Regions from separate parts of the Homo sapiens genome. Here all the other regions are linked to region 3. The links come from fine-mapping of genetic effects on gene expression. Tissue or cell type: whole blood. Region 3 holds a variant in brackets; each other region holds the start of a gene. Each region is shown on its reference strand, or each on the opposite one. Region 1 holds the start of SLC6A9 (solute carrier family 6 member 9). Region 2 holds the start of ODAD4 (outer dynein arm docking complex subunit 4). Region 3 overlaps LOC105373411 (a long non-coding RNA gene).

What was found. PIP is the estimated chance that this variant, and not a neighbour inherited with it, causes the effect.
Region 1: it holds the start of SLC6A9, and the variant in region 3 is fine-mapped to the expression of SLC6A9 in whole blood (TOPMed, PIP above 0.99).
Region 2: it holds the start of ODAD4, and the variant in region 3 is fine-mapped to the expression of ODAD4 in whole blood (TOPMed, PIP above 0.99).

Annotation. Positions count from the first base shown.
Region 1 is chr1:44,027,923-44,036,098 of GRCh38, reverse strand. It overlaps SLC6A9 (solute carrier family 6 member 9), which reads left to right and starts at 4,637. Exons shown (of 14, transcript NM_001024845.3): 1 at 4,637-4,793. LOC107984948 (a long non-coding RNA gene) reads right to left here and starts at 5,685. Exons shown (of 2, transcript XR_007066054.1): 1 at 5,550-5,685. It overlaps LOC124904168 (a long non-coding RNA gene), which reads left to right and starts at 325. Exons shown (of 4, transcript XR_007066055.1): 1 at 325-416; 2 at 674-844; 3 at 1,779-2,454; 4 at 3,372-3,556. RefSeq lists enhancers at 1-50, 1-1,388, 4,907-5,503, 6,145-6,702, 6,703-7,262 and silencers at 5,096-5,165, 5,486-6,035.
Region 2 is chr17:41,926,777-41,934,952 of GRCh38, reverse strand. It overlaps ODAD4 (outer dynein arm docking complex subunit 4), which reads right to left and starts at 4,336. Exons shown (of 12, transcript NM_031421.5): 1 at 4,116-4,336. The coding sequence starts at 4,229. It also overlaps a transcript of ACLY not described here. RefSeq lists enhancers at 4,228-4,327, 4,508-4,597, 4,310-5,213.
Region 3 is chr2:8,612,737-8,620,912 of GRCh38, reverse strand. The region is part of intron 1 of LOC105373411 (a long non-coding RNA gene); the gene reads left to right. Among named protein-coding and RNA genes, the nearest start is that of LINC01814, 33 kb to the right of the region's middle. The variant G/A (reference allele first, on the strand shown) is at 4,860.

The DNA.
Region 1 (8,176 bases), not on the chromosome of region 3:
CAGGGCTTATCCAGCCCTGCCATCCCTGCTGGGGAGCTACCAGCAGATGGAGCCCCGCCCGCGGTCTGGGGTCACTCCTTGTGATGCTGCCAGAGCTCTTTATGATGCCATAATTTGTAGTGACATCATTGCTGTGTCCCTCCTTTGAGTCTGAGAGGGTTACTCAGATAAGAGTTGGGGAAGTGGAGTCAGACAGGAGCCCTACTGAGGCTCCAAGTCAGTGGGCCGGGTTGGGCTGGACTGGAGGAGAGAGTGGTGCCAGAGGATCCTCCCCAGGGCAGATGGCTATTTTTGGTGTCGACTGCTCGGCTTATAGCCACCCCTCTTCCTGTCTTCCCAATCCAAAGAGGCTCTGGGTCCAGCAGGGGCAGGAGCAGTAGGAGAAATCTTTAGCCCTGCAGCAGGGCAGCTCTGGGGTCAGTCTCTAGCTCAGGAACCAGCCTGTTCCTCCCTACAGTGAGGCCTGACCCTCAGTACCTCGGGTCTGAGGGGAAGGGGGGCCTTACTTCCAATCCTTGAAATAGCAGTGAGGCAAAGAGAGATTATTAGGATGGCCAGACAGACGGACACAGCCAGACCCACCATAATAGTCACACACATTAACTTGCTGATGTGGGCTGCAGGCACAGCCTCACGCCAACACCATCACACTCACAGCCATTCATTCTCATAGCCATGCCCACAGCTACACGTGGGCCACAGATGGCTGAACCACACGGACATACCAGCACAGGCACAATGTCACCTGTCCCATCTGGGAGAACAGGAACCCCTTCTCTCTCACGGTTGTACTCCCAGAGAGGAGCTCAATTCCCAGCACATGGCAGATGCGCACTAATATTTGGTGAGTGAATAAATGGACATTCAGTGCCACAGGGCCTGTGACCAGGCTGGGCTGAGGCCAGAGGGAACGCCATCCCACCTGCAAGCCTGCTCGACCTCTCCAGACCCAGGATGGGAGCATCGAGGAAGAACTACAACTGCCAGCACCACCCCAGCCCCAACTTCAGTCATGGCCACTCCTCAGATAATAGGTCACTGAAGGGACCTCGGTTATGTAGGGACCCTGGTTATGCAGGGACCCCACTCCCTCCCTCCAGGTGCAGTGAATTGGAACACTGGCACTCTGAAAATGGAATGTTATGAACATTGGGTGCTCTGGATGTTGGGTACCCCAGGCCCCCTGGAATTTGGCACTGGGGGCTCTGGGTTTTGGGTCCTCTACAGTGTTGGGTGCTCTGGCACCCTTGACATTGGGAATTCAGGACTTTGGGAGCTCAAAGCGATTGAGGAGTCTGGGTGTTGAAAGCTCTGGAGATTGGGGCTGCCCCTTGGACAACGCCAAAGTCAATACTTCCTGTCTATATGCCTGATTTTACCTGGAGCCACTGAGGTCCAGCCCGGAACCCCTGTTCTGAACCCCATGATTGGCTTATGCTGCCCCAAGGCTGGGGTGGCAGGGCTGGGGTGGCGGGGTTTCAGGGGTAGAGAAACCACAACAGGATGGCCTAAGGGGTACCTGGAGCCCCAGAGACAGCTCTCAGGTCTGAAACCAATCTAACCTGCTCCTCTGCATTGGGACAGGGCAGTGGAGGTGCCAGGCACTGACCACTGGGCTCCAGGTTCAAGAAAGGAAGAATCTGAGAGCAGAGCCCAGGCAGGCACCTCCCAGTAATGCTTCCTGGCTACTGAGGCTGGGGTTCTAAGGAGGTGGAGACCCCTGGCCAGGCCTGGCTTCAACTACAGGCAATGTCCACCCTCCCCCACCTTCTCAGCAGGCCCCCAGCACCACTCCATCAAGGTGCCCAGTGCTGCCAGCTCCTGCAGTGACCACCAGAAGTGGCCCAAGTCTGGCATTATTCATATTCCTACTAGACACACACCTAAGCTGACTATGTGCATCTCGAAACAGAGGCCTTGATCCTGCAGGCTGATGACACCACTCGAGGAAACCAGCCAGCCCTGGGGGCTCTGACGCTGGATGCAGCCCTCCCAGGAAATAGCTCCACTGGCTGCAGTAACTGGAGGCTCCTGAGCCACATTTCAGCCTGCAGTGGGTGGTGGGTGGGCCCCAGCCCAACTGCTGCCCTGCCCCAGGAAGAAGCAGGCCCGTCAAAATGTCTGACCCCGTCCGTCCCCCATCCCCTCCCCTGCCCCAGTCTGTCCTCAGTCCTGATCCCCCTGCCCGCCCCACAGTGGCCCAGGCTGGCCATGCCCTTCCCACCCTGCAGGCCAGCTGCTCAGAGCCAGGGGCTCACAGCCAGGGACGGAGGCTATCCCAGCTCCCACCCGGGCTGGGCCCAAACCTGCCTCCTTTGGGCCTCATTCTGATTGGAAAAAAACAGCCTCTCTAGTCCCTGTCTCAGGAAGATGACTTTTCAAACCAGAATCTTTCTCACAAGTGTCTCCTCAGGACACAGCTGTGTGGTTTCCTGAAGCTCTTTCTGGTTCAAGGTGGGTAAAACACACATATCCATGAATCTGTTTCTATGTATACAAATAGACTTTGAGCTATGCCAGTGTTAGTCTAATAAAGCCCTCTGGCCAACATCCCCAATCTCCCTAAACACTCCAAGGAAAATTTTCTCTTCACCCCACGTCCCTGTCCCTAGGTTAGTCCCCAAGCCTTCCTCTTTCTGACGGAGCCTCAGAGGGCTGGCCCCTGAGCACCCATCCTCCTCTCTTCTAACAGCCCAGGCCCCAAGCCCCTAGGCCTGAGGGCATCCTGGAAGTCTGGCTTGCAGCACCCTACACCTGCCTCCCTTCATATGGATTCCCTGAGCCATGAAAACTCTCGGAATCTTCACTGAGTGTTCTTAGCGCTCAGTGCCCTCTTCTAGGCCTGTCCCCACCCCAGCCTACTGCTGGAAGGGAGAAGGAGGGAGGCCTTTTCCCCTTCATACTCTTCCTTGTCCGCCTTCCTCTACTTGGGGGCCTCTTCGACATCCTCCATCTGCCTTCCCTGGGGTGGTATCCCTTTTGATGAGCCCCAGCGAGGAGGCAAGGAGGAAGATCCTAAAAAAAACTTATGGAGGAAGTTACGTCCTGGCAGGAGAGATATAGAGGGCTTGGACCCCATCTGCCCAGTCCCAGGAATTGAGCACACACATAACTACACAGACCTGCTGCAGTGCACACAATCAGTCTTCCACAGATGTACCTACACAAATACACAATCGGGGCTCAGGTGTCTGGGGGCACAGACACAACAGGTTGCCTAGATCCAGGTGTGTGTGCACACAACTCACGCAAGAAACACCTGCACTTGGCTTGTAGGAGACTAAAAATCCCAAACATGCTATACCTACTAGGTTTGGGGACAAAGTAAAAGTGAAAATAATCTCGCTGATAAGACTAAGGTGTCTTCCCAGATCTGATCAGGAGTCCAATGTGAATAGGAGACAACAGAGAGCTGTCTTTGTACTTTGGCTCTGAGGAAGGTTTGTGGAATGGACCGCGTGTGGCCTGAGAGAGCTCGCATTTCAGGGAATGCCTGGGCTTGATGCCTGTTATCTTGTTCAGTGCCTCTGATAAATTAATAAACTGGAATCTCACTCAACAATTGGTTTCACGTGAGTTTGGCATGTGTGCACTCGCTTCTTGGAGGCTGACTGTCCCAAGGAAAAAAATTAAACTGTTTCCTGGCCAGAAAATGGTGAGGACTCAGGGTCCAAAGTAGAAATTGCCTCTGTGGGCTGGGCCCCTTCCCTGAGCAGATGCCCTACTCAGGTTGGGGCAAAAACCAGTTCCTCTGACAGAACTAACTGGCCACTCTCCATGAAAGGTGGTGGCTCTCACAAGGTATGCAAATGTGGGAGGCTCATTCCAAATGCCAGCCACCACTCCCCAGAGGCAGCCTGGAGCAATGGGCTTTATATACACACACATGCATTTCCTTAGCCCCTTCTCTCTGTTTCACAGAGGAGGAAACCGAGGCTCACCATGCTCCTTTTGGCAAAGACTCTTTTTTAGCTGAGATTGTAACCCAGGTCTGTCTCACCATGGAAGGAGGAGGGATCCCAGGTTGGTGTCTGCAGCCCCTGTAACACCACCTCAAAAGTAGAGCTGACCAAGCCGGTGGTCCAGGAGGGAAATTTGAGAAAGGGCTACCCCGAGCCCTCCAGTTCCAAGGAGTAGGACCTAGGCCTTACCCAGCAATGCCCACAGTCTCTAGCGGCTCTGCTCCAAAGGGAATGGAATTTGCTCTGACTTCTCTCTAGGGGAAACGCAGGCGCAGAAGGCCAGGGGCCTGGAGGGCTAACTCCAGCCTCAGCCCCCCATAGTGCCCCAGGCCTTCTGGCTTCATTCCAGCCTAGCCCGAAGGGGCCCACATCTGCTTGCTCAAGGGCCCCAGCTGGAGGGCAGCGAGGCAGGGGCGGAGAAGGGGACTCCTTTGTGGCGCTCACTCCCAGGGGTTCGTGGGGATCAATCATCTGAAAGCTGGAGAGACTTGTAATTTTATTCCCTGGGAGGAGGAGCCTGAGAAGTCGGCACGGGAGGAGGGGATGGGATGGAGAGGGGAGGACGGCCAGGGGAGCCGTTCGGGTAGGGGAGGGACTTGGCTAGATCTCCCAAGCCTTCTCCACTCTTCAAACTTTCACCAAACTCTTAGCCCCCGCCTCCCCGAAACCAAAACACAACAGGCTGTGGAAGAGCTGCGAGCGGCGCGGCGGGGCGGGCGAACTCGGCGCGGCACAGAGCCTCGGGAGGCTGATGCAACTTTCCCTTTAAGAAAGCCACCTGGGCGCACCGCGGTGCGGACCCAGCACGCCTGGGCCGGGGGCTGCAGCATGGTAAGGGGGCTGGGGGAAGGGACGCTGGGGCCCGCGCCTCCGTCTGTCCTGCCGTCGGTCTGAGTGTTCGGCGGCTCCGCGGGGCTGAGCCCCAGGACCAGCGTGTGCGTGTGTGTGTGTGTGTGTGTGTGTGTGTGTGATCGCGCATGTATGCGGGCATCTGTGGGTAAGAGTGTGGGTGCACGCACCGGGATGTCTGTCTCGCCGCAAAGATCGGGGTAGGTGCGCGCGTCTGGGTGTCACCGCTGTCACCAAGGAGCTGAAGCGGGAGGGAGAGGGAAGTGGGGGGAGCTCCTGCGTGGGGTGGCGGGGGGGCGCCAGACGCCGGTTCGATCGGGGGCGGCGGGCGCAGGCTGTGCGGGTAGCGCCGGAGCCAGAGCGTGGCACTGTCCGTCCGAGGAGCCAGTGGTTCTGCGCTCTGGGGGCCTGCAGGGGTCGACAGTCGGCCGTGCCTGCACCCAGCGTGCGGGCTCCCGCTCGCTCCATCGCCTCTCAGCGCCCGCCAGCCTGGCTGCCTATCTGGCCCCTCCAGCCGGCCTGCCTCCCTATCTGCCCTCCCGGTGCCGGTTCCAGTGCCCGTGCGCCCGCGGGACCCGGGAAGCCGCGCGGGAGAGTCCTGGCGCACTCAGCCTCTCTTTGTCCGCGCTCTGGCCGCGGCTTTGGGAAGGGACTGCGAGCGAGCCGGGAGTTCTCTGGGGGTTGCTACCCTGGGAAGAATCCGTGCCCTCCCCACCCCAACCCTCATTACCGGCACACCTAGGGCGGGGCCGGGCGGCCGCAGGTGAGGGCAGGGGCCTAGCAGCCCTGGAGAGCCCACCCCCGGCCGGCGCTCCGCACCCGGCAGCCACTGCAGATCTCGAGCAGGCGGCGGGGCCGGGCCGGGCGGGAGAGTGGGGCTTGCCCGGAGGGCCGGGAGGGGCCGGTGCCGGCCCGGGGGCGGGGCCGTGGGGCGGGGACCTCGGCGCCCCGGTACTTTTCCACCGCAGGGGCCGGGGGCGGGGCCGCCGCCTCCACGCCAGCTTAGGCCCACACGTGGCGGCTGATGTAACGCCCGTGCCCCCACATCTCTCTCCCCGATTAAAGCGGACGCGCCCCACTTCGAGGAACCGGGACGCTGCGGGCGGTGCCGCTGCTCCCAGACCGACCGCGCCCCTGCCCGCCGGCCGGAGGCCTCCGCGCCTCGGGCCGGCGGATACTTAAAGGAGCCGCACCCCCTTTCGGGCCTGCTCTCCGCAAGCCACACCCCCTCGCGGATCACTCTTAAAGGAGACGGGACGCTTGCTCGCTGACAGCTTCCGCACAAAGCGCGGTCTATTTCTCCGCTGAAAGGAGCGTGAGGGTGCGGCCGTTGGGAAATAAAGGCTGCAGGGCGAGGAGTGGGGAAAGAGAAAAACCTGAAAGGTTAAAGACTGCCAAAGTGAGGGAGCATCAGAAGGTTGGAGAGTAGTGGGTGAGGGGACTGGTTCTAGGGACTAATGGGCGACACTGAGCATGCCCAAGTGTTTCCAAGGACCGCAGAGAAAACGCCCCCTTTACTTGGCCTATGCGGCGACTGCGGCTGTACCTGCTCAGTTCCCGGCTCTGGGGACACAGAAGAATCACGCCTCTGCCCTGGTAGAACTCTCCATCTAGTGGGGAGCCAGACTTGGGCACAAGGAAGCATGCCTCAATTGCTACGTGTGGCAAGCGTGGGGGTACAGTAGGAAGGCTGACAGCAACGGGGAGGACCTAGGAAGGCTTCATGAAGATAATAGCATTGGGATAGGTTTTGAGGATGGGTAGGATACATACAGGTGGAAGTGGAGACAAGGGTGCTCAAAAAACATGGAACGGGTGCCGGGGCAAAGGCATGAAGCAGGAGCCCTCTGCAAGTGCTGGGTAGTCTCACGTGGCGGCAGATGGCCGCAGGCTGCTGACCTGGGCTCCCAGGTAGAACTAAGGGCTGTTTCCTGCTCCCACAGCTCCTCCACTTCCTCCAACACAGTGAATGGAAATTATGCTTCTTCCTCTGTCTACTAAACTGTGCGGTCCTTCAAGCTAGGAAAAGAGCCTGTCACCTTTCCATCCCCCGTGAGGACTCCAGGGCTTGGCCAAGATGGACCGTTAAAACTGATTGACCTGACAGTCCTGTCTGATACTCAGCGGTGAGACTGTCAAGGTGGGCCAGGGTTCTGTGGCTGATGTCTCAACATCTGGCTCACAAGCAGCTCAGACCAGCTTGTCCAAGCCAGCCCTCCTGTCCCCGCACCAAACCTGCAGCCTCACCAGCATTCGTCCTCTGGGTCGGGCACCGGTTTCCTCCCACTGCACCAGCAGAAACCAGAGACTCCTTCTTATCCCTCCCCCTACCCAGTCCGATTCATCACCAAGTCTCGCCATGTTGCCTTTTATATTTCTCTGAAATCTGTGCACCTCTCCTCACCCTATTGTCACCTTCCTAACCTGAGCCCCTTCATTTTTGGCCTGGCTCCTTCCTTCCTTCCTTCCTTCTTTCCTTCCTTCCTTTCTTTCTTTCTCTCTCTCTCTTTCTTTTTTCTTTTTCTTTTTCTTTTGACGGAGTTTTGCTCTTGTTGCCCAGGCAATAGTGCAATGGCACAATCTTGACTCACTGCAACCTCTGTCTCCCAAGTTCAAGCAATTCTCATGACTCAGCCTCCTGAGCAGCTGGGATTACAGGTGCCTGCCACCACGCCCAGCTAATTTCGTATTTTTAGTAGAGACAGGGTTTCTCCATGTCGGTCAGGCTGGTCTCGGACTCCTGACCTCAGGTGATCCACCCACCTCGGCCTCCCAAAGTGCTGGGATTACAGGTGTGAGCCACCGCGCCCAGCCTGGCCTGGCCCATTTCTAATTGACTTCCTCTCTTCAACTTCAGCCTCCCTCCAGTCCTTTCTCCACACTGTATCTAGGGGGATGGTTTCAAGATGCACATTCCACCAATGGCTCCTCCTTGAAGTTGATCTTCTGCTTAAAAGCTTTCAATAGGCACCCTTGCCCTCAAGATGAAGACCAAAATCCAGACCCCAAAGGCCCTGGCCAGGCCTCTCTGTCCACTTTAATCTTTGACCATTTCCCCCTGACTGTCTGAGCTCCAGCCTCAGAGCCTTTCCACATATTGTTCCATTTGCTTGACTCTCTCTTCCTCTTCTCTTCCTCATTATTGCCACTTTGCCTAATTAACTTCTTTAGACCCTTAAACATCACTTCATCAGGGAAGCCCTCCCCTAGTCTTACACAAGGCCAGGCCCCCCTATTGTAGAGTCTCATAACACAATCTTTGTCTTTTACACCCTTTATCTCAGTAGGCAGTTCTTTATTTTTTATTTTTTGAGATAAGAGTTTCACTCTTTTTGCCCAGGCTGGGGTGCAATGGCGTGACCTCG
Region 2 (8,176 bases), not on the chromosome of region 3:
ACTGGCTGAAGAGTAGGAATATGCTGCTCTGTGGATACGCTGACTTTCCACCAATGTCTGAGAGCCCCTCAGTCCCCTCAGGCAATAGAACTGTAGGGTATTTTGTGCACACCAAACTCAACTACAAACCTGAAATGGCAACACATCATACTCAAAGCAAATTTCAAAGGCTAAGCATTCTGAAGTGGACTTGAGGACAATCTGCCATGTGGCTTAACCATTCCAGTAGCCTTCTCTTTTTATGTAGCTAATCAAGAACTAATCACTATATCCGGGGATTAAGATGAAAATACCAGGAAAAGGCTGGGAGTGGTGGCTCACACCTGTAATCCCAGCACTTTGGCAGGTCGAGGTGGGCGGAACGCTTGAGCCCAAGAGTTTGAGACCAGCCTGGGCAACATGGCAAAACCCTGTCTCTACGAAATACAAAAAAATTAGCTGGGCGTGGTGGTCCATGATTGTAGTCCCAGCTACTCAGGAGGCTGAGATGGGAGGATTGCTTGAACCTGGAGAGGTCGAGGCTGCATAAGCCATGATCACACCACTGCACTCCAGCCTGGGTGACAGAATGAGACTCTGTCTCAAAAAACAAAACAAAACAAAACAAAAAGAGGCCGGGTGCAGTGGCTCACACCTGTAATCCCAGAACTTTGGGAGACCAAGGTGGGTGGGTCACTTGAAGTCAGGAGTTTGAGACCAGCCTGGCCAACGTGGTGAAACCCATTTCTACTAAAAATACAAAAATTAGCCAGACATGGTGGTAAGCACCTGTAATCCCAGCTACTCGGGAGTCTAAGGCAAGAAAATCGCTTGAACCTGGGAGGCAGAGGTTGCAGTGAACTGAGATCATGCCACTGCACTCCAGCCTGGGTGATGGAGTGAGACGCTGTCTCAAAAAAAAAAAAAAAAAAAAAGAAAGAAAGAAAAAAGAAAGAAAGGGAAAAGAAAAATGAAAAACAAGAAAGAAAAAAAAAAAAGAAAATGCTAGGAAAATGAAACTGATTTTGACCCTAAAGTGGGGTTGAGGGCAATATCCCCACTCCCAGTGTCCTCTTTTCTGTGTGAGATGATTACCATAGTCTGTGGTGTACTGTCCTTCCTGAGGCATCTAACTGTACCCACCCCCCTTTTTCTTTTTTGAGACAGAGTCTCACACTGTCACCCAGGCTGGAGTGCAGTGGCACGATCTCTGCTCACTGCAATCTCCGAGTCCCGGGTTGAAGCAATTCTCCTGCTTCAGCCTCCCGAGTACCTGGGACTACGGGTGCCCGCCACCACACCTGGCTAATTTTTTTTTTTTGAGATGGCGTTTTGCTCTTGTTGCCAAAGCTGGAGTGCAATGGCACGATCTCGGCTCACTGCAACCTCCGCCTCCCGGGTTCAAGCAATTCTCCTGCCTCAGCCTCCGGAGTAGCTGGGATTACAGGCACTCGCCACCACGTCCGGTTGATTTTTTGTATTTTTAGTAGAAACAGGGTTTCACCATGTTAGCCAGGCTGGTCTCAAACACCTGACCTCAGGTGATCCACCTGCCTTGGCCTCCCAAAGTGCTGGGATTACAGGCATGAGCCACCTGACCTGGTCTTTTTTTTTTTTTTTTTTGAGACAGAGTTTCACTCTTGTTGCCCAGGCTAGAGTGCAATGGCATGATCTTGGCTCACTGCAACCCTCTGTCTCCTGGTACCCACCCCTTTCTAAGACCTTCCTACTTTTCTAAGAAGAGGAAGTAGCTACTGTCTTTCTGGAAAGTGACTGCTTCTCATCCAAGGCTACCCTTCCCTCAGGGTGTTCTTTTTTCTCTGCTGGTGGGTACTTCAGGATGGGACATGATCCAGCAGGAGGAGAATAAGTGGGGACAGGGCTACCGAACTCAATTGTTCACTTATCTGGTCATCATTTCTGGTTTTAGGGTGTGGTTGGTGACTGAAAGGGACAAACGACTCTGGGGAGCTGTTGAGAAGCTTGATCTTACAGGAAGTCTCAAAACTACAGGGTTATCCTATCACTCCATCTAGAAGAAGAAGTGGGCAATTTGGAGCAGAAGAAGTGGGCAATTTGGAGCAAAAGAAATGGTCATAAAAACATGTTTTTAGGGCACTGTATCTCATACCTGTAATCCTAGCACTTTGTGAGGCCAAAGCGGGAGTATTACTTGAGCTCAAGTGTTCAATACCAGCCAGGGCAACATAGCAAAACACCTATCTCTACAAAAAAAAAAAAAAAAAAGAAGAAAAGAAAAAATTAGCCAGGCGTGGTGGCATAAGCCTGTAGCTCCAGCTACTTGGAACACTAAGGTGGGAGGATCACTTGAGCTCAGGAGTTTGAAGCTGTATTGAGCTGTGATTGTGCCACCACATTCCAGCTTGGGAGACAGAACGAGATCCTGTCTCTGAAAAAACAAACAAACAAAAAAAAAACAACAGTTTCCTTATGCAGATGTCAGATGTGTAGTTTTGTGGTTAGCACCTCAGCATTGGAGTCTGAGCCCGGCTTTGAATCCTTCCTCTGCCACTTGCTAGTTTAGCGACCTTGGGCATGTTGCTCAACTTCTGTATATTTCCTAATCTATAAAATTGAGTATGCACTGGGTGGGGTGGTTCACGCCTGTAATCCCAGCACTTTGGGAGGCTGAGGTGGGGGGGGATCACCTGAGGTGGGGAGTTCGAGATCAACCTGACCAACATGGAGAAACCCCGTCTCTACTAAAAATACAAAATTAGCCGAGCATGGTGGTGCATGCCTGGGATCCCAGCTACTCGGGAGGCTGAGGCAGGAGAATCGCTTGAACCTGGGAGGTGGAGGTTGGGGTGAGCCGAGATTGCGCCACTGCACTCCAGCCTGGGCAAGAAGAGCAAAACTCCATCTTAACAACAACAAAAATCCAGTCTGCTTAGCAGTGTGCCTGAGGCTGAGGCAGGAGAATCACTTGAATCCAGGAGGTGGAGGTTGCAGTGAGCCAAGATCGCACCATTGCACTCCAGCCTGGAGACAGAGCAAGACTACGTCTCCAAAACAACAACAACAACAACAACAACAACAACAAAAACCATCACCCAATCCCCTTAGGGTGGGATGATGCAATTTATACTAGGGTTACTATAATAATGTTGCTGGTTGGTGCAGCAGCTCACCTCAGTAATCCCAGCACTTTGGGGGGCCGAGGCAGGTGTATCACTTGAGGTCAGGAGTTCGACACCAGCCTGGCCAACATGGTGAAACCCTGTCTCTACTAAGAATACAAAAATTAGCCAGGCGTGGTGGGACATGCCTGTAATCCCAACTACTCCCTAGGCTGAGGCAGGAAAATCGCTTGAACCTGGGGAGGCGGAAGTTGCAGTGAGCTGAGATCTTGCCACTGCACTCCAGCCTGGGCAACATAGCAAAACTTTGTCTCAAAATTGATAATAATAATCATATGTTGCTTACTGGCCACCTTTTATAAGCAACGGTGTGCTGGGGACATTGAGGCTTCTGCATGCAACCTCCCATCCAATCTGCCAGCAAATGATGGGAAGGTAAGGCTGCTCTGTGGAAGGAGGCCGGTTAATCATGAAACATTTAAGTAAAAGTGGAGGAAAAGGTCACTGTTAACGCAGAGAATGGAGATTGCAAGTGGGAACTGGTAGAAAATGGCCAACCACAGGGCTTATCTGTGACAGCAGTGTGTCCATCAAAAATCAGTGAATAATAGAAACAACAGGGTCCTCCAGGCATCATCAAGACCTCAGTGTTATCTGCAATCAAAAGGTGAGGGCAGGGGGCAGGCGCAGTGGCTCACGCCTGTAATCCCAGCACTTTGGGAGGCCGAAGCGGGTGGATCACGAGGTCAGGAGTTCGAGACCAGCCTGGCCAACACAGTGAAACCCCCATCTCTACTAAAAAGACAAAATAATTAGCCGGGCATGGTGGCACGCGCCTGTAGTCCCAGCTACTTGGGAGGTGGAGGCAGGAGAATCACTTGAACCCGGGAGGCGGAGGTTGCGGCGAGCCGAGATCGTGCCATTGCACTCCAGCCTAGGCAACAAGAGCGAAACTCCGTCACAAAAAAAAAAAAAAAAAAAAAAAAAAAAAGTGACGGGTGATGGGGTGATGGATAGGTTGAGAGCTCGACTCACGTTGCTGAAGCTCTGCGCGGCTTTAGAAAATTCCCCGCACAGGTAGAGCCGCTCGCCTTCGGCCATATAAGAGGGAAAGGTGCTTCGCAAGGTCTCGCCTTCGGGGTCCGACATGGTGACCGGATTTAGAGACGCTAAAGCAGAGACAATCAAAGAAAAGCTGGAGAACCTCTATCTGGTTTGTGGAAGCTCCGTTTCTTAGCAACCATGAGATGTACAGCGACTTCCGGTTCCGCCCCCGTCTGGCAAGGGCCCGGATTCTGGGTACAACCTGCCGGCGTGCGCTTGCGCCAGTTCTGCCGCGCACTGGGCCAGGGAGTGATGATTGCGTGGCTGACGGCTGGGCTGGTTAGTGTTTGCTGTTGCACGCTCTGGCGGTTCTCTCTGGAGTTGCTGCCTGAAAAGGCTCCCTTGTAAGACAGCCAAGAAAACAGGAAGAGGGTTGGAGGCAAAGTTCCGAATAGGGATGAGGCATACGTGGTAAGGATATGTGCACGGCGTACCGCCATTAGGGGGAGAGAGCACTGGGCTTGGAGTCAGCAGACTTGGGCTGACTTCGCTCCTGTCACTTCCTAACTGCGTGACCTCTCGCGGGGCATGTAAGGGCTCCCAGCCTCGAATGTTCCACCTGCCAAATAAATATGAAAATAATGGAACACTCAGGGATGCGAGGATTTGCATAAGAAAACATGGAAAATAACGTTGGGTTCAACATAATTTAACGCAGTTATTTGAGCAGCTACTAGTAGCGGGCCTTGACCAAGGCATATTCTGACGTCCTTCCCCATTCCCTCACCATCACCACTCCTCCAAAAGTGGACTAGGTGCTTCTTCTGGGCTCCAACGATACCCTAAGTAGCTTGCTTAACTGCCTTTACTACGTTACTTCCAAAACGTCCTAATGTCATTGTTAAAGTTTAAATAGTAAAAAGATGTCTTTAACTACAAATGCACACACACACACACACACACGGCATACATGTAAAACTGGGGATATTTGAGTAAGATCAGTGGATTGTATCAGTGTCAATTTTCTGGTTGTGTTATTGTACTAAAGTTTTTAAGGATGTTACCATTGGGAGAAACTGGGAAAAGGGTACATGGGATCTCTTTTGTATTTATTTCTTATGAACTGCATATGAATCTATGATTATCTCAAAAGGTTTAATTCAAAATATAAGAAATAATATGGTCCCTGCTTGAAGGAGTTTTATCTAATAGGGGAGAAAGATGTATAAACAAGTAACGGCCACTTAAGTGATATTAACTAGTAATTAAAAGTTCTGTGTGCCTGTGAGGGAGATGAGGACAAAGTGGTGTGAAACCCAGGCAAATGAATGATTCAGCCAGGGTCTGGGATGGGTTAGAGACATGTTCATAGAGGGGTAATATTTGAGCTGAGGGTGAGTATGGTGGAGCCCAGTAGACGTAAGTAGAGAATGAGAGCTAGGTGTGGTGGCTCATGCCTGTAATCCCAGTACTTTGGAGACTGAGGTGGGAGGATCGCTTGAGCTCAGGAGTTCGAGACCAGTCTGGGCAACATGGCGAAGCCCTGTCTCTACCACAAATACAAAAGTGAGCTGGGTGTGGTGGCGTGTGCCTGTAGTCCCAGCTACTCAGGAAGCTGAGGCAGGAGGATCACTTGAGCGTGGGAGGTCGAGGCTGCAGTGAGCCATGTTTGGGCCACTGCATTGTAGCCTGTGTAACAAAGCAAGACCCTGTCTCAAAAAAAAAAAAAAAAAAGGAAATAACATGTGCAAAGGCTGGAGGTGTGTACATTCACAGGGTGTTTAAGGAGCAGCAACAGGTTTAAGGACCTGCAGTGAAACTGGTCCTGTTCTAAGTTAAGGTGGGCTCATTGATGAGTTGAGGACTGTTGCTGGAGCAACCAGGATTAATCAGAAAAAAACCTCCTGCAAGGAAGAGATCTACAGATTCAGTGCAGTTCCAATCAGAACTCCAGCAGCTTTTTTTTTTTTTTTTTTATGGTGGAGTCTCACTCTGTCACTCAGGCTGGAGTGCAGTGATGTGATCTCGGCTCACTGCAATCTCCGCCTCCCGGTTTCAAGCTAGTCTCCTGCCTTAGCCTCCTGAGTAGCTGGGATTACAGGTGCACACCACCATGCCCAGCTAATTTTTTGTATTTTTAGTAGAGATGAGGTTTCACCATGTTGGCCAGGCTGGTCTTGAACTCCTGACCTCAGGTGATCTGCCCGCCTCAGCCTCTCAAAGTGCTGGGATTACAGGCATGAGCCACTGTGCCTGGCCCCAGCAGCCTTTTTTTTTTTTCAGTAATTAACAAGCTGATTTTAAGATTTATGTGGAAATGCAAAAGACCTAAAATAGCCAAAACCATTTTGAAAAAGAAGAACAAAAGAGAACTTAAATTCTGTGATTTCAAGACTTATTTTAAAGCTACGGTAATGGTATTAGCATAAATATGTAAATATATATGGATTAATGGAACAGAAATAGATCCACACATATATGATCAATTGATGTTCAATGAAGTTGCCAAAGAGATTCAATGGAGAAAGGATACTCTTTTCCACAAATGTGTGCTGAAGCAATTGGATAGCCATATGGAAAGACAAAATCCAAAATAAAAAACCTTGATCCTTACCTCACACTATATACAAAAATCAACTGGAAATATTTTAATGTAAATATGTATTTAATTAATTTTTATTTTTATTTTTTGAGAGAGAGTTGGCCTTGTCCACCAGGCTGGAGTGCAGTAGTGAGATCTTGACTCACTGCAACCTCTGCTTTCTGGGCTCAGGCCACCCTCCCACCTCAGCCTCCTGAGTAGCTGGGACTACAGACACGCACCACCACACCCAGCTGATTTTTGTGTTGTTTTGGTAGAGACAGGGTTTTGCCATGTTGCCCAGGCTGGTTTTGAACTCCTGAACTCAAGCAATCCTCCCACCGCGGCCTCTCAAAGTGCCAGGCTTACAGATGTGAGCCACCATGCCTGTCTAAATATAAATATTGAGTTTTTTTTTTTTTGAGATGGAGTCTCACTCTGTCACCCAGGCTGGAGTGCAGTGGCGTGATCTCAGCTCACTGCCACCTCTGCCTCCCAGGTTCAAGTGATTCTTCTGCCTCCGCCTCCCAAGTAGCAGGGACTACAGGTGTGCACCACCATGCCCGGCTAATTTTCATATTTTTGGTAGAGACAGGGTTTCACTGTGTTAGCCAGGCTAATCTCGAACTTCTGACCTCAGGTAATCCACCCACCTTAGCCTCCCAAAGTGCTGTGATTACAGGCATGAGCCACTGCGCCTAGTCTAAACCTTGATCCTTACCTCATACCATATACAAAAATTAACTAGAAATATTTAAATGTGGCCGGGTGTGGTAGCTCACACCTGTAATCCCAGCACTTTGGGAGGCCCAGGCGGGCAGATCAAGACCATCCTGGCTAACACGGTTGAGCTATGATCAGGCCACTGCACTCCAGCCTGAGCAACATAGTGACATCACATCTCAAATAAAATACAATTCTAGAAAATGCAGACTAACTGCCTGGGAACATGGCAGTAGGGAAGTGAGGGGTAGATTACAAAGGAGTACAGGGAAACTCATGGAGGTGAGGAATATGTTCATTATCTTGATTGTGGTAATTGTTTCACAGGTATATACATGTATTAAAACTCATCAAATTGGCCAGACATGGTGGCTCAAGCCTGTAATCCTAGTACTTTGGGAGGCTGAGGTGGGTGGATCACCTGAGTTCGGGAGTTCAAGACCAGCCTGACCAACATGGAGAAACCCTGTCTCTACTAAAAATACAAAATTAGCTGGGCGTGATGGCACATGCCTGGAATCCCAGTTACTCGGGAGGCTGAGGCAGGAGAATCACGTGAACCTGGGAGGCGGAGGTTGTGATGAGCCAAGATCGTGCCATTGCACTCCAGCCTGGGCAACAACAGTGAAACTCCATCTCAAAAAAAAGACCAAAAACCTCATCAAATTGTACACTTTATGTGCAGTTTATTGTACATTAATTATATATTAAGAAAGCTGTTTTAAAAACACAATAAGGCCTGGCGTGG
Region 3 (8,176 bases):
TGGTAAGTAGAAAGTCAAGGGACACAGGGCTTGGTTTTCATGGTTTTCTCTTATTTGGGTGGAGCAAATTTCCTGATCATTCCTGTGACGTGGGAGGCAAATATTTGGACACCTTGAATGTCTGACATCATCTCCATTGTACCCTCACACTTAGTTGATAATGGGTTTGGTACAGCATTCAGGGTTGGAAATCATTTTCCCCTGGATTTTTGCTGCATTGTAGTCTAGCATCCAGGATTTGTCTTGAGAATCAAAATTATTCTGATTCATGATCCTTTGTAGAAGACCTATTTGTATCTCCCTGTCAGCTTGTAAGATTGTCTTTTGTCCTCAGTGTTTGTAAATGTTATGCGGGTGGCTTAGGCTGGGTATCTTTTCATCTGTCATATGGGCGGGTGCTCATTGGGTCCTTCGGGCTAGAAATTAATGTCTTTCAGTTCTCTGAAATTTCCTAAACTATGTCATGATGCTTTCCTTTCCCACCTTTTCCTTGGTTTCTCTCTCTCTCTCTGGAACTCTGTCTTCATATGTTGAACCCCTTGAACTAATTTTACATTTTTTTGCTCTATTTTCTCTATTTCCTCTGTTTTGTCTTCTAATTTTTCGAATGAACTTTACATTTATAACACGGCATTTTAAGCTTACAACTATTCTTTCTGTTCTCTAAATATTCTTTAAAAAACAAACAAACAAACAAACAAACAAACGTGTTTGTGCCTGGATGCCATCTCTGATTGTCTATCTGAGGATACTGATAATAGCTTCCTGTTTTATACTCTCTCTTCTCTATGCATAATCTCTGTTTCCTCCAAGTTACCTTCTTCTCTTTGTTTTGGTCACGCTCTCTCATGTCAGGGGCTTTCTTCAGCTGAGACCCTCAGTCACTGGTTTATATTTAAGAGTGGGGCATGAAAAGTTGATTGGAAGCACTAAATGTGTGATTAAGATTGTTGATTGTGGACTTCCTTGTAAAAGAATCTGGTTGGACTATTTTCCTGGGGAACTACCAATATCGGCATCTTTAGATTTTTCCTCTTGCACTGGCTTGAGCTCAAAAAAGCCCTTTAATCCTCTCTTGGAAGTGACAACCTAGACGTTCTGAAGGCCGAGAGAGAGAAGAGGGCTGGAGCAGGGCTATCGCAGGTCAATATTCCATATACAAACCTTCCCTTAATCTGCTACTTCTGTGTGGTGCCTTGACCTTCAGCTGTGCCTGGGATCTCCCCAACTAGAGACCTGGTCTCCTCTCCAGAGAATAAGCCTTCAGTTTTTTGCTGGTGTCGGAAAGGGGATTTGTGCACCTCACTACTTTGTGAGCAGGTTCCTTCTCATTTTCAGAAGTTGTGGACACCCCCAAATCCTGAGCCCTCTTTGGGTTCCGCTGGTAAACCTGGCTGCTTCTTGGCAGGAATGCCCTTAGACCTGGGCCACGGCCTCAGAGAGTGTATGTTCCCTCTTCTAGCTGTGCCCCTTCTCAGGGGCCAAGAGGACATGCCCACTCAGAGTGCGCACCTCATTCCTCCTTCTAGAACATTCTCCAGGGAAAGGAGGCCTTGGAATTCCCTGTCCAAAGGATCCCAACCCTGCTCCCTGGGCCCCGGGGCGGGGGGGCTCTTTCCAGAGCCCTCCTTCCAGAGTGGACCATGCTGCCAGTGTGAGCCACCTAGGCTGAGGAGTGGCTGGGGGCAAGGGGTTGTGGGAGGTTTGGATGGAGCCATGCAAGCTCCCTCAGGTGCAGGATGGAGCTGGGCTGGGAAGGAAGGGGAATGGGCCACGATCAGGGATCTTCCCATGTTGCTGTGTTTTGGTGCCGAACTGAGAAGTCCAAGGAGGACTATCCATTTGAACCTGCAGTTAAGGGTTGAATTGTGTCCCCTCAAAAAGATCCATTGCAGTCCTAACCTCCAGTTTCTCAGGACATGACCTTATTTGGAAATAGGTTCATTGGAGGTATAATTAGTTAAGATAAAGTCATACTGGAGTCGGGTGGGTCCTAGTCTAAGATGATGGGTATCCTTATAGGACAGCCATAGGAAGATGGAGGCAGAAATGTATCTCCAGGCCAGGGAGCGCCAGCGAGTGCCGGTCATCATCAGACACTAAGAGACAGTCCAGGAACAGATTCCTCCCAGCCTTCTGAAGGAACCAGCCCTGCAGACGCCTTCATCTTGGACTTCTAGTTTCCAGAAGTGAGAGAATAAACGTCTGTGGTCCTAAGCCGCCCAGTGTGTGTACTTTGTCATGGCACCCTAGGAAACTAACACATGGGCCTTTTACATCACCAAGAAGGTATATTTGTCAAAGCAGAGAATAGAAGGATTTTTTTTTTAACCTTTAAATAAAGTCTATGACCTTAGTGTAGAATTTTCTCTTTATGAGTGAGGGCACGTGAGCTTCCTCCGCTGCCCCTGCTCAGGCCTCCTTGAGTGCGAAGGGTGAGTTGGCTTCTTGGCTCCCCCCAATCCTGGTGTAGGGCTCAGCTGTATCCTGCGTGCTCAGCCAGCCCCCACGCACTCTTCCCTTCCCAGCCTCCGGCATTTTACCAGTGTGTTCTCCCGAGATTTTGCTCCTGGAGGTTCCGTCCCAGTGCTGTTCAATAGGATTTTCTGTGATGCTGATGGAAACATTCTTTTTCTATGCTGTTCAGTATATCAGCCACTAACCCTGTGAGGCTGCTGAGTGCTTGAGATGTGGCTAGTGTGATCTGGAAGCTGAAGTTTAGAATTGATTTAATAAAAAGGTAAATGTAGCCCGTGTAGCTAGGGGCTACCACATTCCATAGCACAAAGCTACACTGTAAAATAAAACAAAACAAAATGTTTGTCTTTGATGGATTTAGAGAGAGAATGGAAGTAAAGGAACGTGTTTCATCTGCCATCTTTACCCTAGTATCTCTTGTGTGTCTTAATTTTTATTTCAAAGAGATTTTAGAACTAAACTAGCAGTGGTGAGTTTAAAAAAAAGTCCCGGCTCTCAGATGCATAGTAGGGTGAACGCTGGTGCTTGGTTCTGTGTGCAAGGAGGCAGCTTTCGTGGCCATCCCTCTTGTCACAGGTAAGGGCAGGCAGAGGCTCTGTTCGTGGTCACAGAATGAACCTGGGGTCTTTGGCTCCTGCCAGGTAGGTTTGCAGCCTCCAGGGACCTCGCCAGGCACCCTTCATGACTCCTAAACACCAAGCGGGTGTCCAGGCCCTGCGGCCACCCGGCTGCTGGAAAACAGATTGGGTTGGTAAAAATATGTGTGTGTGTTCTCACAGAACCTGAGAAAATCACACCTCCACTTTGACAAAAAAATCTGTTTGTGCAGCTCCAATAATCACTTCCTAACTGGTGGGATAGCAGGCCATATGTCTGTGAAGTGGCTAGCTGACGAGACATTCTACCTCCGTTGCGCCTCGCAAAATACCTTTTTCTAGCAGATCAGCTCTAAAATAAAAAGAAATGAAGCCACAGGCTTCTGCTTCCAAATGATGCTTCTGAGGCAAGGCAAGACAAGGCAAGTGGTTCCTGGAGACACAGGAGTGGGGGCTTGGAAACGGGCCTGGTGGGGCTTGCGACTCCGATGTGTTTGGGGTGAGGGAAGCCAAGTAGGATTTTCAAGTTCAGGGGCTGGTCCCGTGTTGGGGGAGAGGTCCCTACTGAATGGCGAAGGAGCTGTCTGCAGAAAGTCGGACTTGTTTGGGGGTTTGAATTTTGGAGGAGACCGCCCCCCGGCCGCCCCTCCTGGCATTCCAGCTCTTGCAAGGTGTCTAAACACCTTGCGCTCATCTCGCACCAGTTGTGAAATTCCATCAGGCTTGAATAATCATAGGAAGCCGCTCTGGCATCCTCATGACCTAAGGCAAGCACATCTCCATGTCTGTGTGTGTAGGGGCTTCCCTTTGGACTCCCCTCCGGGCCCGCCAACCTTTTTTGAGTGTGTGGCTCACAAATTTCACCTTGGAGGTGACCACCGTCCCTCGGAAGCTCATGTACACACAGAAAAATGGCAGTCCCTGGAAGGAGCTTTTCTTCTCCCTGCATCCTTTCCCCAGAGTCAGCTGGAAAGATCTAGAACGACAGACACCCTTCCCCGCCATGCTGTTTCTGGAACAAGCTTGTCTTTCCACTATTCACTTTGCTGCCTTAGGTAGAACCACATGTCATGTGTCTTGCTTTTCTCATCTGTGACTCCAAAGGGTAGTGTCAGAAAAGATCAAGTTAAGAAATGCAAAATCATTTTAATAAAGTTATTGACTTTTGTGCCCATTTCAGTATCATATTTAAAAATTCACATTATGGAAATAAATCTGGGTTTTCAGTTTGCTCTGTGCAGTACGCAAGATGCCTCATTCCCTTCCCTTTTTTAAGCGTTTGACATTATTTTATGGCCTGAATTCAATGACTATTCAGAAGATCTGAGAAGCAAACTTTACCTGTTGGATTTTTCGTTATCCAACAGGGAGGACTTGATAAAGGAGGATGGTCTGTATTTGTCAGAGCAGGTGCTGTGGTTGTAGCCAGTCTTGCCGACTGCCATGAGCTGTTAACACTTGCTCATTTTTAAAGTCCTGCTCAAGTTCCGTCTGTGCCCCAATCCCAGGAGGTGTCTATGGAGCCCTGTGACTTTGCTCTTGTTCATGCATCAGATTTCTGATGCTGCTGGTGATCGGAGGAACAGGATGCTCATCTAGCGCGAGCTCACTGACCACGGTGGGAGCAGGAGCTGGAGCTGATGGGATGGAGAAGGGAGCCCCGGCGAGAAGAAGGAGAGACAATTTACTCCAGAACCCGGCAGAGACACTGGCATGCAAAGGTTAGGCCTGGGTCCCCAGGCCCTGCGTCAGTGTTTCTTTCTTGATCTCTTCCAGCAGGAGGGA[G/A]TCTCCCTGTGAACTCCCTCACACATTATCTGCTCCTCTCCCTGGCACTTACCAGTTATCTGTCTGCTGCAGATGAGTTATTTCTGAACTTGCCTTATCTTGCTCCTGGACTGCTTTAGCTCCTGAAGGGTTGCGACTGTCATAAACACTTTGTTATCTTCTTCGGTGCCCAGCCAAGGGCCTTGCACCAGGGCCACGTGCAGAGGGCACAAACCTCTGGTCCCTGGGCCATGGGGCTGAATGGTTTCTGACACCAGCAGGCTGGCACACTGGAGAGGCTGCGGCAGCCCTAGTTGGCTGCCATCTTAGGGAATTGGAAGCCTCTGGGGTGGGGTCGGGGGAACGTTGCTCTGGGAAGGTCTTGGCAGTTGGAGGTTTTCTTCTCCATCTCTCACCATGCCCTTTGCTCCTTGGGGTTAGATGTCTCTGCACCAAGTGCCACCTCTCTCTGCTATATCTTCTCCAACCTCCCCTCTGCTGCGCTTTTCTGCCATCTCTCTCTGTTTGGCATGAGCATCTCTCAACTCAGCATCTCCCTTACCTCCCTCCTTCCCTTCTGGGCTGGGCTTCTCCCGGGGACACCCACTGCACCTTTTATGTCTCAGACCATGGTATTGGTGCCCGCCCTCCATCCCCTGACCCGGCTTGGCTCTGTATGCCCCTCCAGGGCCTACTGTGTGCCACATCCAGGGCGTGCATTTGGTCTGCATCAGACTTGCCTGTTGATCAGCATCTTGGCATTGATCACCCTCTCCTCATTCTTCCCCTTCCCGAATAGCAGACTCTTTCTGGCTCCTTCACCGGCTCCTTCTCCTTTTCTTTTCCTTGTGCATTAGTGTCCTTTGCCCTGCACACTCCAAGGCACTCCCAGACACTCTCTTTCCTTCCACAAGACATCAGCGACCACCTGGAGGCCAACAAACCCAAGTCCACAGCTCTAGCCTTTTCCCTGATGCTGCTTCATGCACGTATTGCAGGGGGTTCCTGCTTGTTGCCTAAGCTCATCAAACACACTTGTCTAAGATAGAAGTACTGACTTAGCACCCAGCATCTCCTGCCACAGTTAATGGTGCCACCATTCACCTGGTCATCCAGGAAGTCACCCCTAGACTCCTTTCTCTCCCCCAGTCCTGCTCATTCTCCAAGTGCCCCAAGTCCTCCTGGCGTAGTCAGGTGGGCTAGGTCATGCTGCTGTAACAAATATCCCTGCAATCTCAGTGGCTGAACACAGTGTCTGGATGGCCGGGCTGGTCTTCTGGCAACTCACCTCTAGGTCACCACTCTGGGATCTCGTCTAATTCGAGCTGTAGCTCTGCCATCTGGAACCAGTACTTCTGAATTTGCTGCAGAAAGTAAGAGCAGATGAGAGGGTCCTGCAAGATGTTAAGGGCCAAGCCTGAAATGGGTTACATCGTTTCTGCCCCATTCTATTAGTCAGAACTCAGTCCTGCGGCCCCTCAGCTCACTGCAAAGGAGGCTGGGAAATGCACTCCGGGAGACGGTCTCCTCCCCGCGTGCTCAGGGAGGGGAAGGGATGTGGTGCCTCTGCAGTACTGCCGTTAGGGCCCTGATCATCTCCTGTTGGACTTACGAGTCTCCTTGCTTACAGCCTCTGTCCTTCCAATCTAGCTTCCTCCCAGCAGCAGGAGCAGCCAGTCATTCTAAGCTGCGGATCTGACCACACCACCTCCTGCTAAACCCCTTGCTCTTGGGATAAAGTTGTGGCTGGACCCTCTCAACCTCTCCAGTCACATTTCTTACCACCCTCCCCAACACAGCCTTCTCCCCAGCTACAACAAACTCCCCACATTTCCCCAAACAGGCAGTATTTCACAAGGCTCCCCTTGTCCCCTCTTTGCCAACAGGGGTTGTCCCTTCCAGAACAGGCTCGGATCTGTGTTCCGGAGTCAGCTCCCCAGGCCCCCCTAGGGTTCATCTGTGCCCACCCACTGTAGGCCAAGTCTCGGGCTCCCCATGCGGGGTTTCCAAAGCCCTTCATGTGCCCTCATTAGGATACTCTTGGCATTGTTAGTTATTGCTTTTCAGAGGGTCTGACTTCACCCACAAGCCAGAAGGGTAAAGCCTTACTGTGCGGCCTCCATTGTGCCGAGAGCACCACATGCTTTACTCACTGGAGCCTTAACATCACCCTGTGAGAGGCACTGCTAGGGCTTCCATGTAACATCATGGGGAACCAAGGCACAGAGATGTCAAGGAACTTGCCCAAGCTCACACAGCCAAGTGGTGGAGGCAGGTTGGCTCCAAGTCCACATGTGTGACTACTGTGCTACAGGGCCTATGACCCACAGCCCTCAGCCACATGGCACCTTCATCTCCGTCTCTGCAACCCAGAATGCTGGTCCAGAGTGCATGGACACTCACAGGCAGTTGAACACACATGAGCAAGTTCCATTTTAAAGCTTTCTTTTACTCTGTCCTCTGCCTACTTCCATCCATGCTTCCATTAGAAATTCCCCCTATGGGCCGGGCACGGTGGCTCACGCCTGTAATCCCAACACTTTGGGAGGCTGAGGTAGGTGGATCACCTGAGGTCAAGAGTTGGAGACCAGCCTGGCCAACATGGCGAAACCCCATCTCTACTAAAAATACAAAAAAATTAGCTGGGGGTGGTGGTGCACACCTGTAATCCCAGCTACCTGGGAGGCTGAGGCAGGAGAATTGCTTGAACCAAGGAGGCAGAGGTTGCAGTGAGCTGAAATTGCGCCACTGCACTCTAGCCTGGGTGACAAGAGCAAAACTTTGTCTCAAAAAACAAACAAAAAATCCTCCCTATGGTTTCCTTCTCAGTTCAGTTCAGGAAGCAAGAAAATAAATCCATGAGACTCTCATTAGATTTTTTCAAACAAAGTAACTTGATCTTATCCCTGGAAGGGAGCACCATGCCTCGGACACAGTTACTCCAGAGATCTCATCCCTGCCTCAACTATTCTGAATGGCTTCTTTGGGAGGTGGTTGCAGAGACAGCTTACTGATCACACAGGAAAATGATTGCCATGACCTTCTATCACTATCTGCGCAATACAAACAACATCAAAGGGACTCTCCCATACTGTGTCTACTCATGAAAAGGGCTTTGCCAGCATCTCTTTAAGTAAGTGTGCAGAAATGATGTCCTTCAAAATCCCTGTTCCCCACGTGGTTGCCGTGACATGGAGACGCAGAGGGGGACAGTGTTGCTGCTCAGGGCTGCCCTGACAAAGGGCCGCAGACTGGGGGCTCCAACAACAGAAGTCTGGCTTCTCAGAGCCCGGAGGCAGGAAGTCTGAGATCTAGTTTTGGTGGGTGTGCTGCTTCTG